2 separate regions of the Homo sapiens genome follow, and region 1 is linked to region 2. Evidence: fine-mapped expression QTL. Tissue or cell type: T cells. Region 2 holds a variant in brackets; the other region holds the start of a gene. All regions are shown on one strand. Distances are from middle to middle.

Region 1 (8,261 bases), 41 kb before region 2:
GTCTCCACTCCCAAAGCCCAGGTCACCCACTGTCTACACCACAGGCAGAGTTGTGTTTTTGTTTTTTGTTTGTTTGTTTTTGAGACGGAATCTTGCTCTGTCACTCACGTTGGAGTGCAGTGGCATGATCCCAGCTCACTACGACCTCCACCTCCCAGGTTCAAGTGATTCTTCTGCCTCAGCCTCCCCAGTAGCTGGGATTACAGGCGCCCGCCACTACACCCAGCTACTTTTTGTATTTTAGTAGAGATGGGGTTTCGCCATGTTGACCAGGCTGGTCACTAACTCCTGATCTCAAGTGATCCACCCCCACCTTGGCCTCCCAAAGTGCTGAGATTACAGGCATGAGCCACCACACCCGGCCAACAGGCAGAGTTTTGAAAACTAAAACTTCCCATCTTGCTTATAGTGAAATCCCACCATGGCCGGGCTCCCGCCTCCCTCCCAGCTGGTCCGCACAGGGTCCACCTGCCGGTCTTCCTTCTCTCCCTACAGCTCGCCAAGCTCAGGGCCTTCTCCTCTGTATTTTCTGTCTGGAATTCCACGCACCCTATCTTGAAACAGCTGACACCGGGCCCCAACTTAAATGTTACCTCTAAGACGTCCTTTTCCCTCATCTTAAAATAAACCACCCTTACCCTCCCACTCTCAATTCCTTTAAGTTAAATTATTTCCTTCTTAGTGTTTATTACTACCTGTAATTCATTTCTTTGTTCACTTTTTTATCATCATTCTTCCCTACCAGACTGTCCTCTCCAGAAGCCAGCGCCTTGGCCGTCTGCATCTCACTGTGTCCTCGGCACTTAGAACAGTCCTGGTGCACAGTAGGTGCGCTTGGTGGGGATGAGATCAGTGAACAGATGAAGGCAGAAGGGCCTTCATGCCACAGAAGGACATGGGGACAGGAAAGGGCTCGGCCAGGATATCCCTTCCTGTGGCCGACAGTCAACAGAGCCTTCCCCACTGCCAGACCGAAGGTCTCTTCCTCCTCCTAGTATCCATGACCTTGGGCCTGCTGGCCCTGGGCAGGTGAGTTCCTACTTCAAATCGGGTGGTCTTGCCCCAGACCTCCACCCCCATACTGTCCTGTAGGCAGATAACTGCATTTCACTGAGCATTCCATGTGCCACCCCATCGTGGGAGTTCCAGGCAGTGAATCCCATTCGCTCTTCTCAAAGACTCTTAGGAGGAGATACTGTTACAATCCCCATTTAACAGATAGAGAAACTAAGGCCTGTGTCAACTGACTTGCCCCAAAGTCACCAGCTGCTGCTACGTAGGGAAATGGGTGCCTCAGGCACAGGGCAGGCGTGGGGCCTGAAGACAGCTGAATGTTGGTTTGGGCAACAGGGCCCTGGAGATTGCCTTCCTGAAGACACGGCAGATCCCAAAGCCAGCTTGTGGGGAGCCCACCGGTGTGGGGTAACCAGGTTGCATCAAGTGGAGACCACCAGGGCTGGGTCAGGGCGGATCACCAGAGGTCACCTGAGTGCCTGGGCCCTGGCCATCCCTGAGTGAGGCTGCTGCCTGGGTACTCAGCAAGGGTGGGGGACTGTTCCTTAGGGGCAAGAGTGCAGAGCAGAAAGGAGCCCCCAGCCCCTGTACCAGGGCAGTGGGGTGGGCCTGGGCAGGCTCCTGCATTCCCACCTCCTCTCCACAGCAGGGAGCTGAAACAGCTCAGGGGCAGGCCCAAGAAGTCCTGGCCCCCAACTCCCTGGGGAGGGAGCCCCTCCCCAGCCCAGCCCCAGCTCCAGGCTTGTGAGTCAGGGCCGGCTTGTTGAAACTGATACCCAGAAACCAGATGCGGAGGCTGATGAATAATGGAGTCTCCAAGGCAGGACCCCCGCACCCGGCTGTTCTCCCTCAGTATCACCTCCCCCAGCCCCAGAAAAGCAGATGGGAAACCAGGGATCCCCCAGGCATCCCTGCCCCACAACGAGCTGGGGCCCCAGCCTGGTCTGGGTGGGAGAGGGACTTCCCTGTCCAGGAAAGGACGCAGGTCTGGGGCCAGCTCCAGGCTCTGCCGACAGCAGACGGGCCTGGAACCAGGAGTCCGAGCTCTCTGGCTGGAGGGATGTCCTTGCCAGGAATTCCCACCAAGGCTAAGCTCCCCTGGGAGCCTGCTAGTCCCAAGGCCCCACCCAACACCTTAGAAATCCAGGGGTGGAGACTGCATGCATGGGCAGGCCAGCCAGGGCGGGGTGGCTTTGCCAGGCGGCTCTCTACGCTCCACCCGGCCTACCCACCCTCCTTTCCCCTAGGCCCAGGCCTCACCCATCACCCCTTGGGTTCTGAGGCTCACCTGGAGTCAGAGCCTGACCTAAGGCCCTGCCCTGTGCCGGGCAGATGGCAGGGACACAGAAAACCTCTCCCCAGGCTAAGCCCACCGCACGGGCCCTGGAAGCCAGGAAGGCCCCTTCCTCCCCAGGGAGCGGTCCTGGCTAGTATGCCCAAGGCTGGGACCCAGTGCTAGAGAAAGAGGGAGGGGCTGCAGTCTGTGAACATCCCCTCCTGCCCAGCCTCTGCAGTTCCCAGCCCCAGACCCCAGCGTGTGTCTTCGGAGCACCTGGACTAGCAAGCCCTTCCCCGGTGCAACTTAGAAGCCTCCTTGGTAGGGAGCGGGGGAAAGAGGGCACCTGCCTGGGCTTCAGAAGACCTGGTCTGGAGCCTACGTTCCCCCACCCTTCCCCTACTGGGCCTCAATTTGCCCACCTGTGCCAAGAGGGCATAGAATTCAGTATCTGGGGATGGCTGCCAGGTCCTAGTGTGTGCCCGGACCCCGGCTAAAGGGCAGGAGAATGGTAAAATACCCCCGAGCTCCCTCAACTTGAGGAGTTACTAAGGAATCTGCAGGGGACCTCTTGGCCTCCATTTCCCAGACTTCCACCAAGGCAGGCCAGGGCCTCCCCGGATTCACGGGTCTCCCGCATCCCCCACCCCTAAGTGGGTGCCTGGGTCTGCTCAGACTGCCCGAGGCGCAGCCTCTGGCGCCCCCTGCCGGCCTCGAGAGGGCTTTTCCGCCTGGGACCGACTCCGGGACTGGCCAGATGGGGAGGATCGGCTGAGCCTCCCAGCCACGCCGCGCGCCCGGGCCCCTCCAGGATCCCCCTGCCCCGCCAATACCCCCCATACCGGGGCCAGGGTCCCATAGACTCCTCACGGCCCTATCTCCGAGCCGACCCACCCTAGAGACACTGTGATGGGGGCGGGAGCTTGAACCCATTCCACCCTCACGTAAATGGAGATACAGCTGGTGAGGACCCTGTACCCACCCACAGGCCTGGCACTACGTGGGAATCTCGAATCCGGGTTCTGTCCATCGGTTTAGGGGGGTCCTGGCGCCTAGTCCCACCCCCCGTCCGGAGCGCAGCTCCCACTTCCCCGCGACTCACCTAGGAACAGGACCAGGGTCTCCTCCCCGGTGTCTAAGGCTCTAAGGCTCGGGCCGAGACTGCCAAAGCCTCATGGGGCGCGCGGGGAGAGGGGGACGGGAGCCGCGGGACGGGCTCAGTCGACTCAGCGCAAACTGGGGCGCGGGACGTAGGGGAATTACGGTAGCCGCGCGGGCGCTACCACCTGGACCGGCCGGGATGTACCAACGGCGCCGCCCGGCTGGGACCGGGGAGAGGAGGGGTCCCAGGAAGGGCCCCGCGCCGGAGCCAGGGAGGTGGCTGGAGGCCGGGCGGTGGCTTGGGGTAATCCAGGATCCGGGCTCAGGGGAGGGGGTGGGGGGCGTCACTGTCCCCGAGGGGCCAGCCCTTTGCAGATCTCCAAAAAGTTCAAAGTCCCTGGTCATTAACTTGGGCTTGAAGACGGGAGCTCGCCCATCCCGGAAGGGGGCTAGGGGGGACCAGGGCCCGCGACAGGAAGCCTCCGCGCGACAGAAAAGCCCCGGGGGACCAGGCAGAGAGACCCGCAGGCCTAGCCCGCCCCGGAATCGCCCTGAGCCAGGTTCGCTTCCGCTCTATTGTAAAAAGCTGGATTCTGATCTGCGGCCTCCGCGGTGCCCCAGAAACAGCCCGCTTTTCTCTGGGCCCCCTCTTTTTTTTTTTTCTGGCCCAGGTGATATGGCCGGAAAAGGGTGCTGTTCTGCCATTTAGTGGTTCCCAGTTCCCCTCTCCCAGCAGCGGGAGTTTAGAATAACTCTGGGCTCAGGACTGGGAAGGGTGTGGATACAGGGGGCCCACTCGAGGAGGTGGAGTTCAGGTCCACCAACCTGTTCCGCACTTTCAAGCTTTTTATACAGCCTTCCCCCGACCCCTTCCCAGGCCAAAACCTCCAGACTGCCCCACACAACCCTTGGGGCTGGGCCTATACTAGGGCAGCTCCTGGCTGGGCCAGGGATCCCCACGTCTTCACCTGCTCCCCCAAAACTACTTAGCCAAAACCCAGGAGTCCCCTTGCATTGTTTCTCTGGCCCTGCCCGTTTCTTCAGCTGCAGATAGCCCCACCACCTCTCTCCGGGGACCAGTCACTTCCAGAGATGGCCCAAACCTGGCCATTCCCTGGGGCATCCTGGTCTGCCGCTGCTCACCCCCAAAGCATTGCCCAGGAGAATAGGTGATTGCCTCTCCCATTACTCACATCCTGCCCGTCCCTTCTCCATGGGGGCCTCAGGTCCACCCTTTCCTCTCCCTGGTCTTCATCTCACCACCCCTCCCTCCACACACGCATACCCTGACTCATCCCTGCCACCTCACAGGCCATTGTTAAGCTGCAAGGGAACTCTGAAGTCCTCCCATCCAACCTCCACTCCACACTGCAATCCCCTCTACGCTTCCCTTTCTGTCTCTTCTTGCATATGTCTAGTGATGGGGTGCTCACTACCTCCACTTCGGGGATAGCTCCAGCTGCTGGAAACTCTTTCCTGTAGTGTGCTGAACCCCACCTCCCTGTCAAGGCCTTTGGGAGCTGTGCAGAAAAATTCACCTCCCTTTCCTCCTGAGAGTTCTGAGGAAATGGGAGGCTCTGACAGAGAGGCCTGGTTTGAGTCCTGATCTTGCCTTGCTTGGCAAGTCATTTTACCTCGCCACTCTGCAGGGCCCTCTCTAGGAAACGGAGATGGGGTAGGCCCCACCGCAGCGGGGGAGGCGGCCAGATGAGGTTTCTGTGCCAGGCGCTAAGGCAGGGCCTGGCATACAGTACGTGCTGGATCAATGGCGGCTGCTGGAATCACTACCTCCTCCATGATAAACACCCTCACATGTGGTGCCCAATGTCCCCTGTGGCCCAGGGCCACAAGTGTCCTCCTCCATGCCCCCTTGTGACCTGGGACGCCCTGACTAGACCTCGAACAGTGCCCAGTGGAGCCCAGCAAGGAGCTGGGGAGTCCACACACTGTCCCGTGGCCACCTCACAGGAGGGCAGGGGGAACCCACAATATCATTAGTCTGCCTTGATCTCCCGGCCTTTCTCCATCTCCCCAAACTCACAGCTCCACCTGTGTGCAAGAAGCTGGGATGGAGCCTGGGGAGGTCTCAGATCCCAGGGCAGGTACGGAGGGCACACCCAAAGTCTAGAGGTGACTTTGTTACCCCCACTCCCAGGACACCTTGCACACCTACGCTGTGCTAGGCTCTATGCTAAGCATGTTATATATGGGCCTCTTTTAATCCTCGCTGCCGGGTTATTTTCCAGATGAGGAACCTGGGGTTCAGAGAAGTGTAGTGACTTCCCCAGGGTCGCACAGCTGGAAAAAAGTAGGTTTGATCCTGGAGCTCAGAGGTGTGGACTGCTCTACATATCTTCATCCTGGGGAGGGGCCATTTCTCTCCTGGGGTCTCCATGACACACAGTCCAGACCCCTCATCTGGACATGCAGGTGCTCCTAGTGCAGCCTGCCTCCCCCTCCTCCCGTCCCCTTCTCCCTGTGCCCCCTGGCCTCGCTTGCCCCTTATAGCCCCCAATGTCCCCCCCTGCTCACTCAGCTGTCCTCCATCTCAGTACCTCTTTAATCCTCAGGACTCCAGTTGCCTCCAGGAAGCCCATCCTGGTTAGCCCTCCTCCCAGTGGGAACTCCAGGGGCAGGAGGTAGGGGACAGATGGCAAATTCATCTCAGAAGCTCCAGCACCCAGGAGAGCCTCAAATAAAACATCAAGGGTGGGCCCAGAAGCCGAAGGGTCCAGCCCTGCCTGAAATTGGTCCTTTGCCAGGGCAGCCTGGGGGGAAGTTTGGCCAGCCAGGGTCACTTCCCTTCCTTCCTCCCAGCACAGCTAGAATGTCACCTCCAGGAGGGCATCCCCTTTGTTCTCTGGAGATCTCCTGGGCCTAGAACTGGGCCTGGCACCGACAGATGCTCAGAGCTGGTCTGGTAAATGAATAAATGAAGTCATCTCCTTCAAAACGCTAGTCACATCCTGGAGAGTAAGAATAGGGCTCTTGATCAGACAAGCCTCACGCAGGCCAGGCTCTGACGATCATGCTGTGTGATGTGGGCAAGTTCCTCTACCTCTCTGGGCCTCCGTTTCCTTACAAGTCATGTGGTCATAAGAATAACGCTGTTCTCCTGAGGGTCTCAAGAAGCTTCACTGAGACAAGCAGGAGGGCCTAACGCCCCGCCTGGCATGTAAACATGTTCGGTCAGCAATAATTGTTATTATTATTATTATTGGGTGTTTTTTGAGACAGAGTCTCGCTCTGTTGCCCAGGCTGGAGTGCAATTGCGTGATCTCAGCTCACTGCAACCTCCTTCTCCAGGGTCCAAGCGATTCTTCTGCCTCAGCCTCCTAAGTAGCTGGGATTACAGGTGTGTGCCACCATGTCCGGCTAATTATTTTTTATATTTTTGGTAGAGATGGGGTTTCACCATGTTGCCCAGACTAGTCTCGAACTCCTGACCTCAAGTGATCTGCCCACCTTGGCCTCCCAAAGTGCTGGGATTACAGGCATGAGCCCCTGCGCCTGGCCTGTTATTTTTGAGACAGGGTCTTGCTCTGTTGCCCAGGCTGCAGTGCAGTGGCACAATCACGGCTCACTGCAGCCTCAATGTCCCAGGCTCAAATGATCCTCCCACCTCACCCTCCCCAGTAGCTGGAATTACAGGTACCCACCACCACACCTGGCTAATTTTTTTTTTTTTTTTTTTTTTTTTTTTTTAGACGGAGTCTTGCTCTTGTTGCCCAGGCTGGAGTGCAATGGCATGATCTCAGTTCACTGCAACCTCTGCCTCCCAGGTTCAGGCAATTCTCCTGCCTCAGCCTCCCGAGTAGCTGGAATTACAGGCACCCACCACCATGCCCAGCTAATTTTTATATTTATAGTAGAGATGGGGTTTCGCCATGTTGGCCAGGCTGGTCTCGAACTCCTGAGCTCAGGCAATCTGCCCGCCTTGGCCTCCCAAAGTGCTGGGGTTACAGGTGTGAGCCACCACGCCAGGCCTTTTTTTTAATTTTAGTAGAGAGAGGTCTCCCTATATTGCCCAGGTTGGCCTCAAACTCCTGGGCTAAAGCAGTCCTCCTGCCTCAGCCTCTCACAGTGCTGGGATCGCAGGTATGAGCAACCACACCCAGCCAGTAGTGGTTATTATTATCATCATCGACAATGTTATTCTTTGTTTCTCTTACCAAATCTGAGTGCCCCGCACCTCCTCTCCACCACTGCCTCTCCCTTCCTGGACTGCCCTTGCCTCTGTTCTGTCTATCCATGTTTTCACATCCATTAAAGGCCCCCTCCTCCAGGATGCCCTCCCTGACTGGCTCTCTATGCCTCTGATAATTCAGGCATTTCTGCCCCTACAGTGAGTCTGTGCCATTTGTCCCAAAGGGCGTCCCAGTAGTGACAGGGCCCAGACTCTCCCCGTGCACGCTGGGTGACCCTCATCAGCTGATGCCAATGTCAGCTGTGCCAAGTTCCAGGCAGGCCAGGGCTGGAGGTGAGGTCTGGAGGCTGCAGAGGGACCATACCCACTCTGAGACCAGCTCTCTTCTCCCAGGCCTCACCTCTATGAAGGCTGGGCCATCCCACCCCTGCCCCTGCCTGAGCAGCTTGAGGACCCCCCCTGAGAGCAGCTGCCCAGAGGAGGGGCTGGGACAGTGTGCCTTATTGCCCCAGCCGCCCCTTCAGGTCAGGCAAAAGCCTCGGGGCTCCGCAGGCCTCTGGCAGGATGTATATTGGGGGGAGCTGAGGCCAATTTGTTGCCAGGAGCCCCCATCTGGGAAAGAGGCAACCAGCCAACACCAGAGCCCAATGCCAGGCACCATCCGTGCCAGCAGATTGTATCTGACATCACACCGCCCCCCTGCCTGGTGACCACGGCAACTGG
Region 2 (8,000 bases):
CTGACATATTTTGAAGAGAGAAGCCACCAGACCATCTAATGGGCTGAAAGTACCAAATGAAGGCTAGGGGATGCCAAGGAGGGGCCAGGGTCTGACCTGGATGTCAGAGTGAATCTTCCAATGGACCAAGTACGAGCCTGGGGCAAGGAGGAGAGGGTGAGGGCAGGAGGGTCCTGGGGATCCCAGGTCTGCATGCCAGTCAGGCACTCAAGTGAAGATGCACACTGACAAGATGGGTTTGGAACGCAGACGAACAGCTGTGTTGGAGGACACTGCAAAAAGGCAACGCCTAAAATGGATTTAGAACCCAGCAGTGACTGAGACAGCCTAGGGGAGAAGTGTCGAGCAAGAAGAGGAGGGCCAAGCCCAGGCCCTTGGGAAGCCTACATTTACAGGAGCTGGCAGACGAAGCAGAGAAATAGCTGCTTCCTTCCTGGCCTCCAGCCCCTAAGGCGTGCTATATAGATGAGTGGGGGTTCTCTGACCTCTGTAGCTTAGACACAGCTACAAGGTCAAGACCAGTCATCTACAGTTGAAGCAGTGGATCCTTTTCAGTAGGTTTATGGATATGTTTTACTCTCAGACTCACCAAAGCCCAAGCAGTCACAGATTGGAGTCTGGGCAAGCAGGATGGGCCCATTCGTGTATCCTCTGACGTCATCCTGGATCTTGCAAAGACCAACCCAGCTGGCGTTTACAGCATATAGTATATGGGTAGGGGCGACATCAGAGTGGGTAATCCGGAGTGCGACTGCATTGAAAGGGACCTGGAAAATGAATTTGCATCTCACTCTATTCATGGCTACTTTGAAAGACCACTTAATTTCTACAACTAGATTAACCAGCTATCTAAAGATAGGTCTGCCAAAGTGCCTACTCAAAAGTATCTCTAAAGAATAAAAACAGCCAGGCACAGTGGCTCACGCATGTAATCCCAGCACTTTGGGAGGCCGACGCGGGTGGATCACGAGGTCAGGAGTTCAAGACCAGCCTGACCAACGTGGTGAAACCTTGTCTCTACAAAAAACACAAAATTAGCCAGGCATGGTGGCAGGCGCCTGTAATCCCAGCTACTCGGGAGGCTAAGGCAGAAGAATCGCTTGAACCTGGGAGGCGGAGGTTGCAGTGAGCAGAGATCCTGCCACCGCACTCCAGCCTGGGTGATAGAGCAAGACTCGGTCTCAAAAAAAAATTAATAAATAAAAAATAAAAATAAAAAATAAAATAAAAAATTCTTTAGGCTGGGCGCAGTGGCTCACGCCTGTAATCTCAACCCATTGGGAGGCCAAGGTGGGTTGATCACTTGAGGTCAGGAATTTGAGACCAGCCTGGCCAACATGGCGAAACCCTGTCTCTACTAAAAATACAAAAATTAGCCAGGGATGGTGGTGCGTGCCTGTAGTCCCAGCTACTTGGGAGGCTGAGGCACAAGACTCACTTGAACCCAGGAGGCGGAGGTTGCAGTGAACTGAGATCGTGCCACTGCACTCCAGCTTGAATGACAGACCAAGACTCCATCTCAAAAACAAAAATTAAAAATAAATAAATAAATAAAATACAAAAATTTAGCCAAGTGTGGTGGCGCATGCCTTTAGTCTTAGCTACTTGGGAGGCTGAGGTACTAGAATTGAGAATCACTTGAACCCACAAAGTGGAGATTACAGTGAGCCAAAATTGTGCCACTGCACTTCAACCTAGGTGAAAGAGAGAGACTCTGTCTCCAAAAAAAAAGAAACAAAAAACACTTAAATTTAAAAAATAAATGTGGGCCGGGTGCAGAGGACACGCCTGTAATCCCAGCACTTTGGGAGGCTGAGGCGGGTGGATCATCTGAGGTCAGGAGTTCGAGACCAGCCTGGCTAACATGGTGAAACCCCGTTTCTACTAAAAATACAAAAGATTAGCTGGGCGTGGTGGCACGTGCCTGTAATCCCAGCTACTCGGGAGGCTGACGCAGGAGAATCGCTTGAACCCGGGAGGCGGAGGTTGCAGTGAGCCAAGCACGTGGCATTGCACTCTGGCATGGGCAACAAGAGTGAAATTCCATCTCAAAAAGATAAATAAATAAATAAATGTGAAGTAATACAAGACAGATTTAAGTATTGGCAGATAAATCTCACATTCACTTAAAGAGCATCTCCAGATGAATAAATGACCCATAAACTAAAACCCCATTAGCAAAGTGACTTAGACTCTCCAGGGGAGATAACTCAGAGGCCTGGAGCCCACACCACCATCGGGCCCAAGAAACATATCCTTGCTGCCCAGGTCTGCCGCTTCAGCCTATGTGACCTAAGGCAAATGCTTCCACCTGACAATGCCCAATGCTCAAAGCTGTAAATGAAGCACGTCTTAGCCTTTCTCTCACAGGGTGGCCATGAAGTCACTGAGCCCCTCCATGCTTCGCAGAGTGCCTGGCACAGAGCAAGCGCTCAAAACCGGACATGCTGTGCGGCAGAGCACAGACCTGGGCTCAGAGTCGGGCGTCCTGCGGCTTCAGTCCTAGCCTCAACTTTGACTACACCATTTTGGGCAAGCTGACTCCCAGTCCCTGGCCTTGCTTTTACCATCTGTAAAATGGGGATAATAACAGGACCACGGTAAGTAGTGGAGTTACACAGGCTTAGAACAGAGTACTGCACAGAGTAAGCATTTCAGAAGTGCTACCTGCCGCTAGTTTTGTTTTTTCATCATCCCGAATCCTAACACTATCATGCTTTCCTCCCAAAACAATTATTAGCAGCCTGGATTCCAAGTTGCAAATACTCTGGTGGTGGAATCTACTTTTGATGACAGTAATGTGAAGTACTTCTTTTTTTTTTCTTTTAAGTCGGCATCTCGCTCTGTCACCCAGGCTGGAGTGCAGTGTCATGATCTCAGATCACTGCAACCTCCGCCTCCTGGGTTCAAGCGATTCTCCTGCCTCAGCCTCCTGAGTAGCTGGGACTATAGGCACGTGCCACCATGCCTGGCTAATTTTTTGTATTTTTAATAGAGAGGGGGTTTCACTGTGTTAGCCAGGATGGTCTCGATCTCCTGACCTCGTGATCTGCCCGCCT[T/C]GGCCTCCCAAAGTGCTGGGATTACAGGTGTGAGCCACCACGCCCGGCTAATGTGAAGTACTTTAAGAGTGTTCTCTGGGTGCCAGGTTCCACTGTGAACGCTCCCTGAATCCACACGTTCACTCTCTGAGGCCCAGTAGCACCCCTGCTCTACAGCGGAAAAGTGGAAGTGCTGGAGCAGCCCCTGCGACCAGATGGGACATTCAAACCCAGCACGGACCCACACTTATCCTCAGTACAGAACCATGGCTAAGAGCAGTCACTGGAGCTGAACTGCCTGGGCCTGCATGCCAGCCCAGCCCCTAGTGCTGAGTCCCTCAGCCTCTCTACACCTCAGGTTCCCCATCTGTAAAGTGGGAATAACGACACAAGCTGTGTCACTGGGATGTTCTGAGGATTAAATGAGCGAGGAGTTATGTAGTGGTTAGGAGAGCGCCCAGCACACAGAAAACCACACAAGTGTGTAACAAAATGAAGACAATTTCTCCTGTAAGTTCAGATTACCTGATAGGGTGTCAGGCTATGTAAAGGAGAAAGTGGTTTGGGCATCGGGGGCTGCAGCTGGCTAAGGTAACTCAAGATGGACAGATCTCGAAGAATTTTGTTATGTGACTCTCTGAAAGGCAAATCACAACAAGGTAAGTAGACATTTAACCCTCAACGGCCACCTCCCACACCTGTCATCACAGAGGTCACATTTTCACAGAGTACTGGGCTTTCCAACACTGCCCCCCCTTGACGGACCCCAACTGGAAAAACAGGAAGTGTAAAGACTCTCCTTTAAGTCAAAGTTGCTGGCAGCCAGAGGTAGGGGACACTTCTGGATATTTCCACTGGGAACATAACAGTTCAGAAAACAACTGGTTCGTCTTTGTGCATGCACAGCTGTGACAGGGACCTGAAGATCTTAGAGGACTCAGGCCTTTAGAGGAATTGAGAATGGCAGGTCTTTTTCGACGGAAGGAAAAATAATTCTTCAGCCAAATGAGGGTTAGTTACCTATTTCTTGGAGTTATTCTGAATGCAAAGTCTGTATAAACACCTATCAGTTTATGTCCAGTGAACTCAACTGGACTCTCTTTTTCTTCATCAGCAAATTCCAAAGCATCTGCAAATGCTGCGAGTCTGAAACGTCGATTTCTCATCTTGGTCTTGCTTTTTGTGTACAAGCCATCCATGTCATCTACATACTGCGGGGTAAGGTCTGGCATATATTTACTGTGGTCAGAGCGGAACTGAACCACGTGGCTGGGAGACAGCAATCGGATCAGATCAATGAGAAGCAGGAGCCCCTGGTCTGTGGGGAAGAGACATTAGCACAGCTGATACACTCAAGAACAGTGACGCGCTCAAGAACAGTGACATGCTCCTACGACAAATGGATGCATTTGTTCTAAGACAAAGAAACCATCAATACGTTGGACTTCGGCTGGGCACAGTGGCTCATGTTTGTAATCCCAGCATGCCTTGACAGGCCAAGGTGGGCGGATCACTTGAGGCCAGAAGTTCAAGATCAGCATGGCCAACATGGCAAAACCCCATCTTTACTAAAACTACAAAAATTAGCTGGGCAGAGTGGCACACGCCTGTGGTCCCAGCTACTCTGGAAGCTGAGGTGGGAGGATTGTTTGAGCCTGGGAGGCAGAGGATGCAGTGAGCCGAGATCACGCCATTGCACTCCAGCCTGGGCGACAGAGTGAGACCCTGCCTCAATTAAAAACAAAAAACAAAACACTGGGCTTTAACGTGAATGTCTGAAACCAACAGTACTCACACTGCCTGTCCTTCCCTTGCAGATGTGCACATGCAGGCTTACCTGAAACCCATCCCATAGTGTTGACGATGAGAGGGGACTCTCTCTTGTAAGCGCTGAACACATATTTCACTATGTCAATATAATTCTCATAGTTGTTTTTACAAGAAGGTTTCCCATAATATACCATCTTCTGTGGAGTCCTCAGGTGAGTGAAAGGTGGTCCTAAAAAGATAAAGATGAGTAATCAGATGAGTAAGGTGAGTGATCAATCCTGGCTACTTAAAAGGTGGTGAGGGTTTTGTTTCAGCCGTTATCACTGACAAAGAACCTTAGGAAATCTGAGACCATCCTACCTACAGGAACACTCTAATTCCATTTTTTGGAAATCTAAGCTTTCAACTTAACACAAAGACATGCTCACTTTCACATAAATGGCTAATGCCAATTATGTCCTAACATGGCCATTCATTCAGCGAACACACAAATCTGCTAACTGCTGGGCTTGTTCCAGTGATTTGGGACATATCTGTAAACAAAACAGACAAACATCCCCACCCTCACAGGGCTTCTATCCCAATGAAAGGGCAATGAATAGCCATGTGTGTCTTATAGCAATACAGCAATGACTCTGTTCTAAGAGGCCCTTCACATATAGCCTCTAATTTTCTTTCTTTTTTTTTTTTTTTAGACAGAGTTTCACTCTTGTTGCCCAGGCTGGACTGCAATGGTGCGATCTTGGCTCACAGCAACCTCCGCCTGCCAGGTTCAAGCGATTCTCCTGCCTCAGCCTCTCAAGTAGCTGGGATTACAGGCATGTGCCACCATGCCCGGCTTATTTTGTATTTTTAGTAGAGACGGGGTTTCTCCATGTTGGTCAGGCTGGTCTTGAACTCCCAACCTCAGGTGATCCACCCACCTCAGCCTCCCAAAGTGCTGGGATTACAGGCGTGAGCCACCATGCCCAGCCAAGAGCCTCTAATTTTCATAACCCTGTGGCAGGTAGTAGTATCCTCATTTTTACAGATGAGGAAATTGGGAAAGAGATCAACTTGAACAAGGTCAGCCAGTCAGTAAACAGCAAGCTGGTTTAAACCCAGAGGGGCCGGCTCCTGCGTTCACACTCCTAATCATGACATATCTCCTCTGGCCAGGGACAGGGAGCTGAGCAGTTCAATGAGGGCAGGGTCTGCACAGTCAGCAGGCCAGTGACCAGGACTGTGTGTGACAGGGTCAGAAGGGAGATGGCCTGGGTCAGTGTGATTGCAGCAAGGCCACTCAACCGTCAGAGTGGCCACTATGATGGGAGCTGCGAATTCAGCCAGCGAGGCTCCTTTCAAGGTTGGGGCCAGTAAGGGCAGGGATGTGGGGTAGCCAGCAGCAGAGGGAGTGGCCTGTATAGTTCAGAGAAGACTGAGCAAATATGCAAATATATTGTAAATAATCATAGGCAGGTTTCTTCCCACCAGAGAACCAACTTACAAATATGAAAGTGAAGAAGGCTAACGAGAGTGACCCCTGGGGTGTTAAGCCAGAATCGGATGAGTCGGAAACTCATGGCTCTCTGTCTCTCTCTCTTTCTCTCTTTTTTCTTTTTATTTTTTTGAGACAGAGTCTCACTCTGTCATCCAGGCTGGAGTGCAGTGGCGCAATCTCAGCTCACTGCAACCTCCACCTCCCGAGTTCAGGTGATTCTCCTGCCTCAGCCTCCCAAGTAGCTGGGATTACAGGCACTCGCCACCACACCTGGCTAATTTTTGGACTTTTTTAGTAGAGATGAGGTTTTGTTATGTTGGCCAAGTAAGTTGGTCTCAAACTCCTGACCTCAAGTGATCCGCCTGCCTCGGCCTGCCACAGTGCTAGGATTACAGGCATGAAGCACCGTGCCTGGTTTTAATGAGACAGATAGAAAAGGTATCTACAGAAGTACAGATCTATATGCATACATACACATATACATATGTATGTTTGGGTTTAAATATGCAATATATGCTAGCTCTGTGCACTGAGGGGATCTAGAAACAATAACACACCAGAGGCAACAAGCGTGCACAGTACTGAAACTCTGGTTTCAATCTCTCTCCATGAAAAGGAGCCAGGGCTCTCTGGAAAAATAGCTCATTCCAAGGCTATGGAAGAGAAAGTGAAAGATGACCCCAGAACTTCCTGTTTTTCCTGAAAGTTAAGACAGTGCTCAAAAAAGGATGGAGCCATGGAGTAGCCAGGGTCAGTACAGCTGGAGAGCCCAGGCCAAGGGTGCAGTCAGGACCTAGGACGTAAGAGGAGCTCAGTAGACAGACAGGTCCTAGGAGGTGGCCGGCAGGGCAGAGCGGCTGCTTATACATAGGGATATTGTACACATAAATTAATGTGTTCAGAATAATGAGAGCCAAGTTTTCTTGTTTTTGTTTATTTTTAAGACAGGGTCAGCTGGGCATGGTGGCTTACACCTATAATTCTAGCACTTTGGGAGGCCAAGGCAGGTGGATCACCTGAGGTCGGGAGTTCGAGACCAGCCTGGCCAACATGGTGAAACCCCACCTCTACTAAAAATACAAAAAATTAGCCAGGCATGGTGGCGGGTGCCTGTAATCCCAGCTACTTGGGAGGCTGAGGCAGGTGAATTGCTTGAACCCAGGAGGCACAGGTTGCAGTGAGCCGAGATCGTGCTATTGCACTCCAGCCTGGGCAGCAAGAGCGAAACTCCATCTCAAAAAAAAAAAAAAAGTTGGAGGTATCACATTCTCTGACTTCAAAAGCAGTTATAATTAAAAGAGCATGGTCCAGACCGGGCTACAAAGTGAGACACTGCCTCTACAAATAATTGTTCAAAAATTAGCCAGGTGTGGGCCGGGTGCGGTAGCTCACGCCTGTAATCCTAGCACTTTAGGAGGCTGAGGCGGATGGATCACCAGGTCAGGAGATCGAGACCATCCTGGCTAAAGTGGTGAAACCCCATCTCTACTAAAAATGCAAAAAATTAGCCGGGCGTGGTGGCAGGCACCTGTGGTCCCAGCTACTCGGGAGGCTGAGGCAGGAGAATGGCGTGAACCCAGGAGGCGGAGCTTGCAGTGAGCCGAGATCACGCCACTGCACTCCTGCCTGGGTGACAGAGCGAGACTCCGTCTCAAATAAAATAAAATAAAATAAAATAAAAAAATAAAAGTTAGACAGGTGTGGTGGCTAAT

The links. PIP is the estimated chance that this variant, and not a neighbour inherited with it, causes the effect.
Region 1: it holds the start of PLEKHG5, and the variant in region 2 is fine-mapped to the expression of PLEKHG5 in T cells (TOPMed, PIP 0.95).

The regions. Positions count from the first base shown.
Region 1 is chr1:6,487,053-6,495,313 of GRCh38, forward strand. PLEKHG5 (pleckstrin homology and RhoGEF domain containing G5) reads right to left here and starts at 4,615. Exons shown (of 21, transcript NM_020631.6): 1 at 4,585-4,615. RefSeq lists silencers at 2,906-3,265, 3,676-3,765, 3,826-3,905.
Region 2 is chr1:6,528,405-6,536,404 of GRCh38, forward strand. It overlaps NOL9 (nucleolar protein 9), which reads right to left. Exons shown (of 12, transcript NM_024654.5): 7 at 4,876-5,037; 8 at 4,059-4,356; 9 at 3,564-3,675; 10 at 590-767. Among named protein-coding and RNA genes, the nearest start is that of NOL9, 22 kb to the right of the region's middle. The variant T/C (reference allele first, on the strand shown) is at 3,060.